Regions from separate parts of the Homo sapiens genome. Here region 2 is linked to region 1. A link means that fine-mapping ties the variant in region 1 to the expression of a gene that starts in the linked region. Tissue or cell type: tibial artery. Region 1 holds a variant in brackets; the other region holds the start of a gene. All regions are shown on one strand. Distances are between the middles of the regions.

Region 1 (8,210 bases):
CTTGATTTTGTTAGCTTTTTTCAGAATTTATCTTTCATTCAGTTCCCTTCCATTATCATTTACTTTTACTTAGAAGTATCCAAGGAAGTCTTTTAACTTTAATTTCCATTTCTTCCTAAAGGGAGAGTGAGTGATATGTACAGTGTTTTGAGATTGTATACATATATTCCAGAACTTGGAGGAAATCTTATTTAAGTTTATGAATATAACCATCTGTTACTGTTCTAAAAATGTTTAAAAGAAACTCAATACAGATAAAGATAAATATGTGACTATTATTGGGTATTACACTTCACTTCTCTTTAATATTTTTCCTCCAACTGGAGGGCAGACAATTTTCTGACTTGCTTTTCTCTAGGTGGTTCATTTTGAAAGGGGACAGAAATATAACTAAATGCTTCCAGGAGAAAAATTCCAAGAGTTACAATCTGGACTTGGTACCTAAATATCATTTTTTAAATTCTTGATGCCTATTTGGACTAGAGGTAAACATACTTTCAGATTGGCCTGTTTTTGTCGGTAAGGCATACAGCCTTCAGAAGCCAACATTTTTAATCAAAAACTTATAAAACATGATGATCATTGTGAAAATTCTGAGTTGAAGGTTAGTTTAAGATAAGCTAACAATAACAGTCTGTGTTTTCTCTAAAATAATCTGAGTTTTTTGGAACTCTTTATTTAAATATGTGTGTTTTTCAGTATTCAAATAAGATCAGGAAGCCAATTTTCTATGTATGAATATGCTTTAACCTAGGATTTCAGTCCACTCTGACTGACTTTCTAAACTTTAACTTGGGTTTTTACAGTGACTATGCATTAGTGCTGACTCTTTGGTATAAGCCATAAAATATTTTCCTTCCTATCAATTTATCTGAACTTTGGTCTTTTCACTAAATTGTACAGTATTCTACTTCTGTTTAAAAAGGGGAGATGAGAAAGGGAATACTATCTAACCAATAACTTGAACAAAAACACTAAACTAAGCATTTAATAGAAATGCTTTTTATTGAGGAGGTATTATCCAGAGTTCATGCTTAGAACAAATGCATCTTTGCGTATCCTAGACTTAACAATTCATCAGTTTCTGAGACCACAGAATCAGGTTTTCCGTAGTAGATAAAGACTCTCTGGTGCTTCAAATTCTGTTCAAGTGTTTTGACTCATCAGCTTCTACTCTTTCTATTACTGCCTTTGCCTGGCTTGTTTTGTCTCTTTGCAACTGATTTTGCAAAAAAAAATTGTAGCTTTAAAATAACAGGGTCTAAGTATTTTAAATGTGCCTATTTCACAGCTCTCTTGGTCACAAAAACATGCTATTTTTATTGGAACTTCAAACCAAATCCCCACTGAGTGTGTACTGGTTCCTGCAGGTAGCAGTCTCCTATTATCTCCTGTTTAGCACCAAAAGAGCTAATATTATTGGAAACTGACCTTTTAAAGGCCACTGGCAGTAGGATTTAAAAAGCAGCCCACTGCTCAGTTTCCAGGATCAGCTTCCTCCTTCTGTCACTTGTGTAAGTTGGCACTACCTTGTGCCTCTCAGATTGCTGAAGTGCTGCTGGTAAGCATGTGCATGCTCTGCCTTTCTTGTGAAAGTTTTCAATCAGCGATATCAGCACTTACAGTAAGAAGTAAAAGTAGTGCACAGCAAAGCTAATTTGCCTTTGCCTGGGGTGTTCAGCTTGAAAGAATAAAGCTCATTTGGTTTAGTTAAATGTCTTACTCTACTGTGCCTATGCTTTTAGCTGCGTTACTAAGCAAGGGAAAAATAACAGTTTCTCTGAGCCAGAGAAGACTTGATCACAGTTCTCCAAGCATCGTGATAGCAATGCTTAACCCCAGGAAGATTTCAAGGCAGGGAGAAGAACATTTCAAATAAGATTCTTGTTAACCCATTTATGCCTAGTGTTCCATTATTGGAATGCTAAGCTTGTGGGAGTCATTTACATCCTACTGCTCAAAGTCATTGCCAAGGTCTGATTTTTCACACAAAAAATTGCAACCCCCAGCATAAATGGGTTAGCTACTGTCATCAGTTAGCAAATTCATCCACACAAACACAATTAGAGTTTGGTTTTTTTTTAAGCTTTTCAAAACTTACTAAACTGGCACAATTTTATATGTATGCTATTTGTTGTATTTATGCTTAAGAGCAAAAAAGTTTTGATGGGATTTTAAATTCAGGCAAAGCCTACAACGCTGAGACAATCCCCTAACAACATGGTAGTAACTAAAGAAACTTTTATACTAGGCTTCTTAGTTTTAAAAGGAAGTGGCATCATTGTTTCAGTTCTAGTTTGTATTTTTCTCTCAGATATTTTTCTTCTTTAAAAATCTTTCCCAGAAGTTGGTTCCTAGAAAACTCAATACCATCATCTCTTATCTCTATACAGGGACTAGGTAATAAAACCTTCAAAGGTTGTCAAAGGTCATCAAGCAGTGTTCATTTATCCTGTCACATGTTTCTGTTTCTATAGTAATTTAGAAATTGCAAATAGTTAACTTTTCATCATGTAAAAAGTTAACATTATCCTATTTCCATAGATACCATGGACGGCGGTGTGGCCTGAGTTGTCAGTCTTTAATCCTGAGTCATGTGGCTCTCTTTTCATCTTTGATGTCAGTTCCAATTATTTGGCATCAAAAACCTTCATGGTAGGTAGAGTTTTAGGTAAAAGTGGATCTAGGGTTACTTTCTTTATTAACATTTCCTAAATAACTGAATTGAGAGACATACTCTGCTACTATGTCCTCAGGTTAATTTTTGTCTGATCTTACGATGCCCTGCCTTTTACTAGCTACTTTAGAAATAGAAAATGTGAAGAGTGACTATTTACATGTATACTCCTTTGGCTGCTAGAACTCATCTGTAGTCCTTTATTATTTACACTGAATTCCAATTTCATTTCTGCTTCCGCTAAGTAAGAGCACCTCATTCCTGTGTTTTCTCTACTATTGAGCTGTAGACGAACTGTTTCTCTAATTATAAAGCAAACTGTTTGGGATATTCAGGGAAACTACCCCAATGTTATGTTGTCATTTAATGGGAAAGGCTGGGATCATATGTATTTCTATGTTCTGTAAAGTATTTGACTTACTAGTTCTCAATAAAATTTTATTAGGACTATATATCATCATGTGCTTTTTGTTTGCTTTGGTTTAAACTTGAGAAATATTTTCCCTCAATGGCAAGTTATTGC[G/A]GGATCTGGCCAGCAGCCCGCAATGCAACGGGGCTCTCTCTTTGTTCCCAGGCAGATTGGTAGGTTGAGAAATAATAGACTCACACAAGATAGTGAAAGCCGCGTCCAGGGGGGTCACCGCCTTCTGGTTCTGCGGTGCCAACAATGCGCTGGATATACCAGCATTTATTATTAAGTTTAGTGAGGGCAGGGGTAGGTTAGTGAGGAATTTAGGGTCATTTGATTATGAGGTGAGATGGTCACGTGGGGATGAAGTAATGCTTTAACATAACATTTGTATGCAGAAGTACAGTATACAGGGATAAGAATTTACAATATAGTGTGTGCATCAGTAATTTCTAACAGAGCCTTAAAACAGAAACACATTCTTTCCATAACCTATGATTAGCAAGATATTAATCAGCAGTAACAGTTGCAGCAAAAGCTGGTTACAGACAATCCATAGAAATAGGACGTGAAGCTAGACAACTGGTTAGACCAGAAATTCTCAGAAGGGAGTATGCCTTAACCCTAAAGAGGCCTAGAAGAGCCATGGCAAGATGAGGGCATTTATAGCCCTATCTTATCCATATGGACAGGCGCCCCCCCATGCGTCCATTTATAGGCTCTCCACAAGGGTCGCATTCCATTCCCAGAGCTATGAATATCTGCTTTTCTGGGATAGGAATCTTGGTGATGATGTGAAACCTCCCTGACTGCAGATCCATTCATAGGCTATCTGCAGGGGGAAGCACATTACATGCTGTTGGCTCATACTGGCAGTCCAACCTGGCATTGTCTTTACACAATCCTGCATGCAACTTTGTATTTACAATAATCAGGAGCATTTCATCTTTTATTCCGTAGCAGTAGTTTCAGGGGGTTCTCCCTACAGCAAGTGAAGGTTTTTTTTCCCTATATATACTCCTGTTTCCTAGGCTTTGCTCCTTTTTCTTCATTGTTGGATAAAACAAGATTTGCACTACTGTCTGAAAATAGAGATTTATAAGAGGAAAATATTTTTAAATCTGATCATTATAGAATTAGGAGGAATCTACTAGCCTTCAAGAACAACATGTATTAACCATCTCATAATATATGAATCTACTGTGGGGTTAATAACTAAAGGCCTAATTCTAGAAATTTATTTTCCTGATGATCAATTCTGCTTTGAATAGAAAAGGGGGGGATTAAATGAGGCATAATTATAAAATATATATGCAGAGGTTAGAAAAATTTTGCTGAGTCACTTGGGATGACTTTGTGCCACTGCTTTTTATGACACAGCTAGTTAGTGTGACTTACCACAACAGAGATTGATAAATTATAAAATACTTGTTTTCATCTCTAAATTACAATTTGTGTGCTGGTACATATGATTAAAATGTCCTTCATACCCAAAGTCTGTTTATTGAGTGACTGATAATACTGAGGATAAATGCAGAGTTACATTTATTTCTCTCATTTGAATGAAGTAAAGGTATGGTAATATCAAGACTCTAGATGTAGGCAGTGAGGCATGGAGAGGACACTACCTTGCAAAGGCCACACAGAGATTGCAAAATGATGCTTAGAAAGGTCCTGCTAACTCTACGAGGTTAGTTTCCATTGGCAAGGCCAGCTCTAGTTTACCGCTCCCTGGCTTATCCTCCTACTATGAGAAAAATAATGACAGGCACAATAAGTTGCACCACAGTTGTAACCTCATGAATGAAGAAAACTTCAAAATATTTGTTTTTTGTGACTTACCTGTAGTATATTTTTTCCTAATTTTGCATTGGAAAAGATCTTAGCCTTTCTCCTCCTCTTCAGCCTTTCTCCTCCTCTTCACACTCTCTGAATAGAAAAGAATAATAATTTTTATGTCATTCTTTTTTTCCAAGATAGTTCCCACTGTGGATTCAAAGTTATTAAAATTCTCATGTCTTCTCTATTCTATTAAGCATCATTTAAACTGAAAACCTACAAGTCAGTTCCCTGAAAATTTGCTTTCTCATTGTTTCTCATCCAAATTTGCCCTCTTCCTTCTAAAGCTGTGGGTCAATTAACAAAACGAGAACTCAGGCTTGTTTTTATCTTTTTTTTGTAACAATGACAAACGTATTGGCTTTATTGGTCCCATGATGTAAACTGTCTAAACACTATTGTCCAGAAGCCCTGTGCTAGTGCATCCTCAGGGACTTATTTGGCAGTTTTGTGAGTAATAGGAGAAGGCAGCAAAGACAATAAGCCAAGAGCTGAAATAATGAGGATTGAGAAATGGATCTTAGCAGGGCTGCTGCTCATAGTCGACCAGTTCAATTTCACATTTCTACATTATGTTAACTTTTCAACCACGTGAAAATTACAACATGGTAACATTAAGTCTGCAACTAATGTTCTAATACTCAACAAGTAAGTGTTAGACAAAGCATTTGTGAGGCACTTAGTCATGTAGGGAGACACGAGACTTTATTATAAGTCAGTTTATAAAATAGTGTTCCAATTGCCTAATTTCTCTTTGATGGAGCTGGGATATTAAGAAAGGCATTTATAAACCAGAAAATACTGATGTGGCTCACTGTGAAAGATGATATTGTTTACTCAGGATTCAGCATTCAGAAATAAACATGCCCTCCCTTGCTGATGCAATCTGAACTGCTGGCACTTTCAGTTTTTATGATGCAGATATGCCATTTTATTAATCATACCATGACCAATGCCTTAAAATCATTTATCCCCAAAATTCATTAAACATGCTATCTTTATGTGCAAGGTACTGGCTAGGGGATCTGTTTGCATAAGGTAGACATCTCTACTCTGGCAACTCAGTCTGGTGAAGACAGGTGACTGGATAAGCAATTGCAAGGAAATGTATTATAATAATCCTATCACCACTCCAACTACTCTTCCCATTATTCCATAACTTCATGTATATTGGGTCTCTCATATGGCCTGCAGTTTCTATCTATGGAGATGGAGTTTAGAACTCTAATAGGAAGAAGACAACTTAAAAGCCAATCAGCCAGCCCAGAAGCACTCAGAGTTCTTTCATTTGGACTACCTTGATGATGAGCAAGGTGGAGGGAAATTTGAAGACAAAGAGTCCTTTGCCCCCTGTTGCAGGAAGTCAGGGACCTTGAATGGAGGGACCGGCTGAAGCCATGGCAGAAGAACATAAACTGTGAACATTTCATGGACATTTATTAGTTCTTTAAAGTAATACTTTTATAATTTCTTACACCTGTCTTTACTGCAATCTCTGAACATAAATTGTGAAGATTTAATGGACACTTACCACTTCCTTAATCAATACTCTTTTGATTTCTTATGCCTGTCTTTACTTTAATCTCTTAATCTTGTCATCTTCGTAAGCTGAGGCTGTAGGTCGGCCTAGGACCTTGTGATGATTGCATTAACTGCACAAATTGTATGTAGAGCATGTGTGTTTGAACAATATGAAATCTGGGCACCTTGAAAAAAGAACAAGAAAACAGCAATGTTCAGAGAACAAGGGAGATAACCTTAAAATCTCGCTGCCTGTGAGCCAGGTGGAACAGAGCCATATTTCTCTTCTTTCAAAAGCAAATAGGAGAAATATCACTAAATTCTTTTTCTCAGCAAGGAACATCCTTGAGAAAGAGAATGTGTCCTTAAGGGGAGGCCTCTGAAATGGCCGCTTTGGGAACGGCTGTCTTTTACAGTCATAGCTAAGGGATGAAATAAGCTTCCGTCTCCTGTAGCACTCCTAGGCTTATTAGGACGAGGAAATTCCTGCCTAATAAATTTTAGTCAGACTGGTTGTCTGCTCTCAAACCTTGTCTCCTGATAAGATGTTATCAATGACAATGCGTGCCTGAAACTTCATTAGCAATTTTAATTTTGCCTTGGTCCTGTGGTCTTGTGATCTCACCCTGCCTCCATTTGCCTTGTGGTATTTTATTACTTTGTGAAGCATGTGATCTCTGTGACCTACACCTTATTTGTACACTCCTTCCTTCTTTGAAAATCACTAATAAAAACTTGCTGGTTTTACGGCTCAGGGGGCATCACAGAACCTGCCGACATGTGATATCTCCCCCAGACACCCAGCTTTAAAATTTCTCTCTTTTGTACTCTGTCCCTTTATTTCTCAGAACGGCCGACACTTAAGGAAAATAAAAAAGAACCTACATGAAATATCGGGTGAATTTCACCTGATATCTGGCGCCCCACATGGTCTTTTTTTCCTAAGTGCATGTGGAGTAATGAGAGATACCCCATACTTTCAATATAAACCTGCAGGAAAACCATGCCCTAAAAATTTTGAGGGCCCATCTAAAACTTTAATTTGGGAAGACTGTGTTTTAACTCACATGGAGTAGTATTAAAAAATGACTCATATGGCTTAGTAATAGACTGGGCACCAAAGGGCTATTTAAAAAACAATTGCTCCTCTGGTGGAAGGGAATGCCTGGAGCCTACTTATTTTATTTCTTATCGGGAGAATGAGAATCATCATTCTACTTTGCATAGGAGGTTCAGCTCATTCCCTTAAAATGGGAAGATAAAGGCATTACCCCCACGAGGCCTCATATGATACTCCCCATTCTGAGCCCAGAACACCCAGAACTTTAGAAATTGGCTATTGCCATGTTTAGACTGTGAGTATGGGAAGGGGAAACTATTATGTCTGTTGTCCCCACTACCGTCCCCCACTCTCAGTATCAACGTAGATCCAGACGTTCGACTTCACTTACCTCCAACCTGACTGTTCACATACAGAGTTGTGTTACGCTTCCTTACATGCTGTTAGTGGGAAATATCAAAATTTGGATGAACAATCAAACTGTCCAATGCATTAATTGTCATTTATACACTTATATTAACTCCCATTTTGACTCCAAGAAAAGTGTAATGCTGGTTCAAGCTCGAGAAGGAATCTGGATTCTGGTAACTTTGCCCAGAGCTTGGGAATCCTCCCCCTCAATACATTTAATTAATGAAGTGTTACAGCAAATTCTAAAAAGATCTAAGAGATTTTTTTTCACTTTAATCGCTGTTATCATGGGC
Region 2 (8,210 bases), 110 kb after region 1:
ACTTCACCAAAAACGTTTTAGACCTCATAAATTCAATAAAGTTTCAGGATACAAAATCAATTTCAAAAATCAGTAGCATTTGTATACACAATAATGAAGTAGCTGAGAAAGAAATTAAGAATGCAATACCACTTATAATAGCTACAAGAAGATAATGAAATACCTAGGAATAAATTTAACTAAGATAAAAGACCTGTACAAGGAAAACTATAAAGTACTGGTGAAATAAATTGAAGAGAACACAAAAAAATGGAAATACATTTCATGCTCATGGATCAGAAGAATTAATATTGTTAAAATGGCCATGCTGCCCAAAGCAATCAACAGTTTCAATGGAATCCCTATCAAAATACCAATGTCATTTTTCACAGAATTAGAAAAAACAATCCTAAAATTTTCATGGGGCCAAGTAAGAGCCCAAAAACCAAAGCAACATGAACAAAAAGAACAAAGCTAGGGGCATCACCTTACCTGATTTTAATATATATTACAAGACTTTAACTAAAACAGCATAGTATTAGTATAAAAACAGTTACATAGACTAATGGAATAGAATGGAGAATCCAGGCCAGGTGCGATGGCTCATGCCTGTAATCCCAGAACTTTGGGAACCCGAGGCAGGCAGATCACTTAAGGCCAGGAGTTTGAGCTCAGTCTGGCCAACGTGGCAAAAACCCGTCTCTACTAAAAATACAAAAAATTAGCCAGGCATGGTGGTATGCACCTGTAATCCCAGCTACTCAGGAGGGAGAGGCAGGAGAATCGCTTAAACCTATGAGACGAAGGTTGCAGTGAGCTGAGATTTGCCTCTGTACTCCAGCCTGGGCAACAGAGCAAGACTCTCTCTCAGGAAAGAAAAAAAAAAATAGAGAATCCAGAAATAAATCCATGTATTTACAGCCTACTGATTTTTGACAAATGTGCCAAGAACATCCATTGGGGAAATGACAGTATCTTCAATTAATGGTGATGGGAAATTTGGATATCTACATGCAGAAGAATATAGGTATCTTCTATCTAAGCCCCTATCTTCACTACATCACATATTAATTCAAGGTACATTATAGACTTAAACACTTAAAACTATAAAACTACTAGAAGAAAACAGAGGGAAAACTCTTCAGTACATTGGTCCGGGCAAAGATCTTACACCTAAGACCTCAAAATCACAGGCAACAAAAACTAAAATAGACAAATGGTAGCATATTAAACCAAAAAGCTTCTGCATATCAAAAGAAACAACCAAGAGAGTGAAAAGACAACCTGTAAAATGGGAGAAAATATTTGTAAGCTATTCATCCAACAAGGCATTAATATCCAGAATATCAAGGAACTCAAACAATTCAACAACCAAAAAAAACCCCACAAATAATCATATTAAAAAGTGGGCAAAGGATATGAACAGATATTTCTGAAAGTAAGGCACACAAATGGCCATATACAAATGGTATATGAAAAAATACCCAACATCACTATGCATCAGAGAAATGCAAATGGAAACCACAATGAGATATCATCTTACTCCAGTTAGAATGGCTGTCATTAAAAAGATGAAAAATATCAGATTCTGGTGAGAATGCAGAGAAAAGGAAACTCTTAAACACTGTTGATGGGAAGGTAAATTAGTACAACCACTATGAAAAATAGTATGACGATTTCTTTAAAAACCAAAAAATAGAACTACCATACAATCCAGCAATCCTACTTCTGAGTATTTATCCAAAGGAAAAAGAAATCAGTACATGAATATGTGCACTTGCATGTTTATCTGAGCCCTTGTCACAATGGCAATAGGACAATAGCACTATCCAAACATCCATTTCTCTGTTGATAGACACTTAGGTAGAATCAATTCAGTAAACAATATAACCATGAGCACTGTCTCATGGAATTTATAGTCTAAGTGAGGACAATAATCAATAAATGATTCAATTATTATAAGCTATGAGTCCACCAAATGAAGTATTGCAATATGGGATGAGAGGAGTGGAACCTACTTTAGATAGGGTGATAAGTAAGACCCTTCTGAAGAGAGGACTTACTTCTAAGGTAAGACTTGAAAGGGAATAAAAACATTCATTCAAAGAAAGATTAGAAGAACAATTCAGGAAGAAAGAACAGCATATCATACTAAAGAATGAACTGAAGAAGGCCAGAATGTCTGTAGTCCAATATGTGAGGGGGAGAGTGGCAGGAGATGTTGCGGGAGCTCATCCATTTTTCATCAATATTCTAGGAAACATAAATCACTGGGAGAGGACACACTATGAAAATAACTCTACTCACACACCAGTCTGCTTTAGATAGGCCCTCTCCTTTACACCTAAATAAATATTTACAATTTGAGGGAAGAAATGGAATCAGCCTAAGCATAAGACATGAGGACTCAGAACTTGTTGGTTCCTCATCCTCCAAGCTCCAACCACAAGTTGTTTCTCCCTTTGCCAAGATATCTGGAATTTCCAGACTTGCAATATTAATGCACAGCCCTGTACATGGTCTTATATACCTATGATGACAGCCCAGTCATGAAGCTAGAGAAATGCAAAATAAGAAATTTTGCTAAAATTCTTTAGCAAAAGCTAAAGAATATGAAGACTAAATCTGAGGGAAACCCTAAGGTATATTGGATTTAACCATTATTGAAGACATAAAAAGGTTTAGTCAGAAAGTTTCTGGTGCTTCTCAAGGAATTAGTGACAGCTTTAGAGTGTGAAGACCACATTTCTTGAGTGTTCAGACTTAAAATTCTGTCTTTGTGTAAGACCTTTCAGACTCTGTTTGCTGAAGAAAGAGACTGAAATGTAAGACCTAGAAGTCATATTGTAACATTGCAGGCTAACCAGGTGTTGAGAGACCCCTTGCTATTTATTTAGCCATGTTGTAATGCCCTTTCCAATCCCAAATTCATTCTTGCTTCTAGAAGATTATTGAAGTGGGACTTGCGAGACATATAGTCTCTTTCAACAAACAGCAATATAATTCTTCCTTTACACATTCCAGGGAAGAAAAAAAAAATATCCTTTCCAGCTGGTACACAGGCTGTGATGCACTGGAACTACCTGAATCCTAACCGCCAAAAGGGCACCAGGGAGGATTTTAATATATGCAGTACGAGTGTGTCAAAAACAGCATCTTACGAGAGATTTAATCTGTTCATTTGAAAGAGTGCGGTACAAATGGTCCCGTGGGGCTCACCTCCAGGGCCGCCAACGATTTCACACTTGATGAGAATCAATATGTGTGCTTGGTCTTGACTACAAATATTTCATTAGAAGCTGAGAAAAGGGCCCCTGCTACCCCATTTTGCTTTCTTCCCGGCTTTACTGGTCCCAATTTCTTCCACGTCAGAAATGCCCATCACATTTCATATAAAAGAATGTATCCAGCAAATTAAAAAGCTAGAGACCTCAAGTTGAAATTAATACTTACAGGGTAACAGGTGTCTCACATTTTAAAAATCCTGGCACTGGTTTACAGCAGCATAAGAGTGCCCTTTGTGCTGTTTCCTCCTCTAGCAGAACTGCTCCAAACACAAGGACTGAGGCCGCCAGTCTCTCAAGAATGCCTAACGTGCCATAGGGTGGCCTCCTGGAGACATGAATACTCTCTTGGGCCCGAATTAGAAAACCTTGACCAGGACAAGTAGAAGCAAATGCACTGTCAGCCATGGGCTATTCTTATCCCTGCAGTTGTTGCCCATCTTCAAAATGGAGACAGCGAGACTCATGCTGTCTGAAGACCCTAAGACAGGCTTGACACAGGGTCCCTCTGTTTTTTTTATCCCACCCAATGTCATTCATTTTACTTTGGAAGGCAGTATTATTTCTTCTCCCTATCAAACTTTGTATTAAAGCATAACATACATTTGGAAAAATGCAGAAATCTTAAGTGTACAACTTGATGAATTATCACAAAGTGAACAAATTCATGTAACCACCAGCTCCTTCAACAAATTCATGTAAACACCAGCTCCTTCACTACCTGACCTTCCTCTCCACTACCCAACACTCCTCTCTACTACTATCCTGTCTTCGAATACCATCAGGTAGTTTCTCTTGGTCTTGAACTTTATATAAATGGAACCATAACACTGTGTGACACTGATCTATCTTATTACATGTACCTGTAGTTTGTTCATTCTTATTGCTGTGTAGTGTTCCATCACAAGGATATATGATATTCTATCCATTTTATTGCTAATGGGCATTTGGGTTGTTTCCAGTTTTGTGCAATTATGAATATCATTGCTAAAAATGTTTATGTACATTTTTTTTGAGACAGAGTCTTGCTCTTGTTGCCCAGGCTGGAGTGCAATGGTGTGATCTCAGCTCACTGTGACTTCTGCCTCCCGGGTTCAAGCAATTCTCCTGCCTCAGCCTCCCAAGTAGCTGGGATTATAGGTGCCCACCACCACACCTCGCTAAATTTTTGTATTTTTAATAGAGACAGGGTTTTGCCATGTTGGTCAGGCTGACCTCGAACTCCTGACCTCAGGTGATCCACCCACCTCAGCCTCCCAAAGTGCTGGGATTACAGGCGTGAGCCACCGTGCCCAACCTATGTACATCTTTATGCATATACATACACATTTGTGGGGGACACATGACTATGAGTGAAATTGTTGGCTTTTAAGATATGCACATGTTTAGTATTTATTCTTGGCCTTTTTGTCCTGGAGGGTGCTTTCCACTTAATTTCCCAGAAAAATATCAGCTGCCAAAATCTCTTTTGCCAGTTTGTTCTTGGAACTATGCTAAATATTGTAGGATGATGGTGAGTTAATGGGCAGTCATTGCCCTTGGACATTTATGCTCTCAATTCCTTCTCAGGAGGCAACCAAGAAGGATTTCTGATCAATAGTCTGACCATTCGGTTACTGTTTTCTTACTGCCACAGCCCCTTTTCTTGAGGTAGTCTCTGCATCGTGTGCCCTTTCTTGCCATGGTCTGGGATTTTCTGTCCCTTTCATACTCCCTCTCTCTTGCCAGAATCACATACTACAGCATCAGAATTACCCAGTGAAGCAATCTCTGAGCAATTTTAATCACTATAAATGTCCTTCCTTGAGAAATCCTACACCCCCACCTCCAGGGGAAGCAGCATGTTAACCATGTAAAGAATCACGCTGACTCAATTTCTACATGACTTACTATCTGCTTCATAAAACAAGATTCCGGAGCACTGGTTCCAGCTTGGCCCTGGATATATCATGACCTCTAACAAGGTAACTCTGAGAGCAAAAGAAGAAAAATACCAGTCTTCACTTACACAAGTATTGGATTTATTAACTGTTAAAGAAACAATACTAGTTAAAAACTTAGTGACGAAAGGAGTGTAAACATTTTAAAAAATCATCTTTATTATCCAGTCCCAGTCCTTTATCAAGTTTGCACTTAAACACCCATTTATTCTTAAAAGGAAACAGTTTACATTTTAAAATATTTTTGGAGTACCTCATAATCCCCAGTTAGAAAGTTATTTATTTTTAACCGAAAATTATTTCACTCATCCCTGTTAGTTTCATATAAAGAACAGCTGACGACTATTCTCTTAATAGCAACATTTTATTAATTAAAATTGCTTTTAAGCCACCTTTTTCTTCCTTCAACTAAGTACTGCCAAAGCCATTAACTTTTCAGAATGGGTTCTAATAGTCAATTTTGTTCATCCTCATTCTCTCTTCTAACTATTCAAATATTCAAATTCTTTCTCTTGCTCAGATTTTGGGGCTCCAAACTGTCTTGAATCATTTAAGTATATCTGCCAACACCAAAACCCGTAACATTCTTTCATTCATTTATTCATCCATTCCATTAAAAAAATGTTTTCAGCTTACTGTGAGTTGGGAGCTGGAGAGTCATTGGAGAACAAGAAAGATGAGTCCCTGATCTGATAAAGCTCACTTCCTAAATGTATTAGAAAACAAATAAAAATTCAAAAATTATAAAGTCCATGAGAATAATAAAAACAGATGCTAGACTAAGTAATAACCAGAGGAGGGGTTACTTAATATAGCATGATTCCATTAGGTCTTTCAGAGAAAGTAACATCTGGATTAAAATCGAAGTGATCTTAGGTAGTAGCCATGAAAGAATATATAGAAAAAGTGTTCTGAGAAAATAGTACAGCAATGTCAGGCCCTTAGGAGAGAAGGTCAGAATGGCCAGAATATAACCAAAAAGGTGGAGAGAACTCTGAGAGGAGTTCAGGGAGACAGGTGGAGACTAGATCAAATCCAGCCTTGTTGGCCATTGTTAGGAGTTCATCTTGTAAGTTCCAAATGTGATGATTCCATTAATGAATAATGACATACATAAACTTTTCTCAGATAAGTGCTAGGCTTATGATCAGTTATTGTGCATTCTTCCAATTTGTGATTTACAGTATACCCAAGATCTCCCTGCCTTTGGCATTGCTAACATTCCAGTAATTCTTTTGCTTCTTTGAGGCCCTCTTCTTCTGAAACATAACCTTCAGTTGGATCTTTTTTTTAAAATTTATTTTTGAGACAGAGTCTCACCCTGTCACCCAGGATGGAGTACAATGGTGCAATCTCAGCTCACTGCAACCTCTGCTTCCTGGGTTCAAATGATTCTCCTGCCTCAGCCTCCAAAGTAGCTGGGATTACAGGCACCTGCCACCACGCCCAACTAATTTTTCATATTTTAGTAGAAACAGGGTTTCACCATGTTAGCCAGGCTGGTCTCAAACTCCTGACCTCATGATCCACCTGCCTTGGCCTCCTAAAGTGCTGGGATTACAGGCATAAGCCACTGTGCCTGGCTGGATCATTTTTTTTTAACAAGGCAAAATTTAATTCTACTACAACTGAATAGCTGAGGTGTGATCCTTGTTGTTTTTCACATGTCATTATCCTTCCCTTAGTCATTAGGAAGCAGTAGGGTTTAGATTTCATTAAAACCGGGTTCTACTTCTGTTTTTGACACTTTTTTTTGTTTTATGGGTGTTTTTGTTTGTTTTTTGAGACAGGGTCTCACTCTGTTGCCCAGGCTAGACTGCAGTGGAACAATCGTGACTCACTGCAGCCTCCAACTCCTAAGCTCAAGCGATCCTCTTGCCTCAGCCTCCCTTCAAGTAGCTGGGACTATGGGTGTGCACACCACGGCTGGCTTGTTTTTAACACTTTTACTGTGGGTAACTAGCATGTAACTTTACCTCTGAGTCTTTTTATCCATAAAGTGAAATAATACCTACCTCAGAATTGTTGTGGGGATTAAAGGACATGGAATACGTTAACCCTCAACAGATGGCCACTAATAATATACTTTTCAAAAAGCAAAAACCATAGAACTTTGCAGTAAAAATGAGATGCTGGGATCTTACCCTATCCATTCCTCTAATTTTGTATTTAAGCCTCTCTGAAGCTAAAATAATTGTCAGTAGTCACACAGCTAGTAGCTAGACGTAAACCAGATCTCACTAAATCAATATACTAATAGAAAAATAATTCAACCACCTACTATTTGCTTTAGCTTTGAGGTTGGGCTTTATGAACTCCATAATTATTCTCTGAATCAATCACAAATGCAGCCTGATTCTTGAGGCAAGTTGAAATTGGAAAAATGTGTGGTCTAATAAATGCTACTTATTAGGGCTTGGGAGATTCAGAACCATGAACTCTACTTTTTACTCAATTTGTTAAGGGGGAAAAAGCCAATAAGAAGACATAGTTTCTATATAGATCTCATCCACCAAATGTGGATTGTGACTTACAGACAGCTCAGGGGAGGAAATAAACCTTAGCTGACCGAAGAACTTTGGTAAGCAAATTATTGGAGATAGTGGATGTGTCAACTTAGGGCCCAAATCTAGAGGAGGAACTGTGGTGTCGTTAAATAATGTGAAAGCCACTTACTTCAACTGCTTACTATTGGAAAGTTTTCAAGTAGATATCATACACACATGAACTGATTTATGTAAATGTAAGGGGAAAAAATCCTGAGTCTTAATTGAAGGTTTGACAAGTTGGCTTTTACATATGGTTGTGCTCATATTTAATCTTTATTGTTGGCTTTTTAACTTTTTTATTTTATTATTTATTTATTGTATAAGCAAAGTGTAGTCACAGAAGAAAAATAAAAATATAGATTAGCAAATAAAATTAACTCATAATTCTACCACTCAGAAATAACTATTAACACAAGTATGCACACACAGACACACACATGTTAATTCACACACTTAAA

Direction of the effects. Positions count from the first base shown, and alleles are read on the strand shown. Sizes are in standard deviations (SD) of each study's normalised expression.
For the expression in tibial artery of the gene that starts at base 3,555 in region 2, allele A in region 1 goes with a higher level than allele G (small effect, 0.29 SD a copy in GTEx).

The links. PIP is the estimated chance that this variant, and not a neighbour inherited with it, causes the effect.
Region 2: LANCL1-AS1 starts here. The variant in region 1 is the best candidate, but not a certain one, in a credible set for the expression of LANCL1-AS1 in tibial artery (GTEx, PIP 0.77).

What each region holds. Positions count from the first base shown.
Region 1 is chr2:210,426,170-210,434,379 of GRCh38, reverse strand. LANCL1 (LanC like glutathione S-transferase 1) reads left to right here. Exons shown (of 10, transcript NM_006055.3): 10 at 1-3,129. LANCL1-AS1 (LANCL1 antisense RNA 1) reads right to left here. Exons shown (of 5, transcript NR_110606.1): 2 at 4,929-5,015. Among named protein-coding and RNA genes, the nearest start is that of LANCL1, 46 kb to the left of the region's middle. RefSeq lists an enhancer at 3,859-5,058. The variant G/A (reference allele first, on the strand shown) is at 3,201.
Region 2 is chr2:210,320,057-210,328,266 of GRCh38, reverse strand. LANCL1-AS1 (LANCL1 antisense RNA 1) reads right to left here and starts at 3,555. Exons shown (of 5, transcript NR_110606.1): 1 at 3,433-3,555.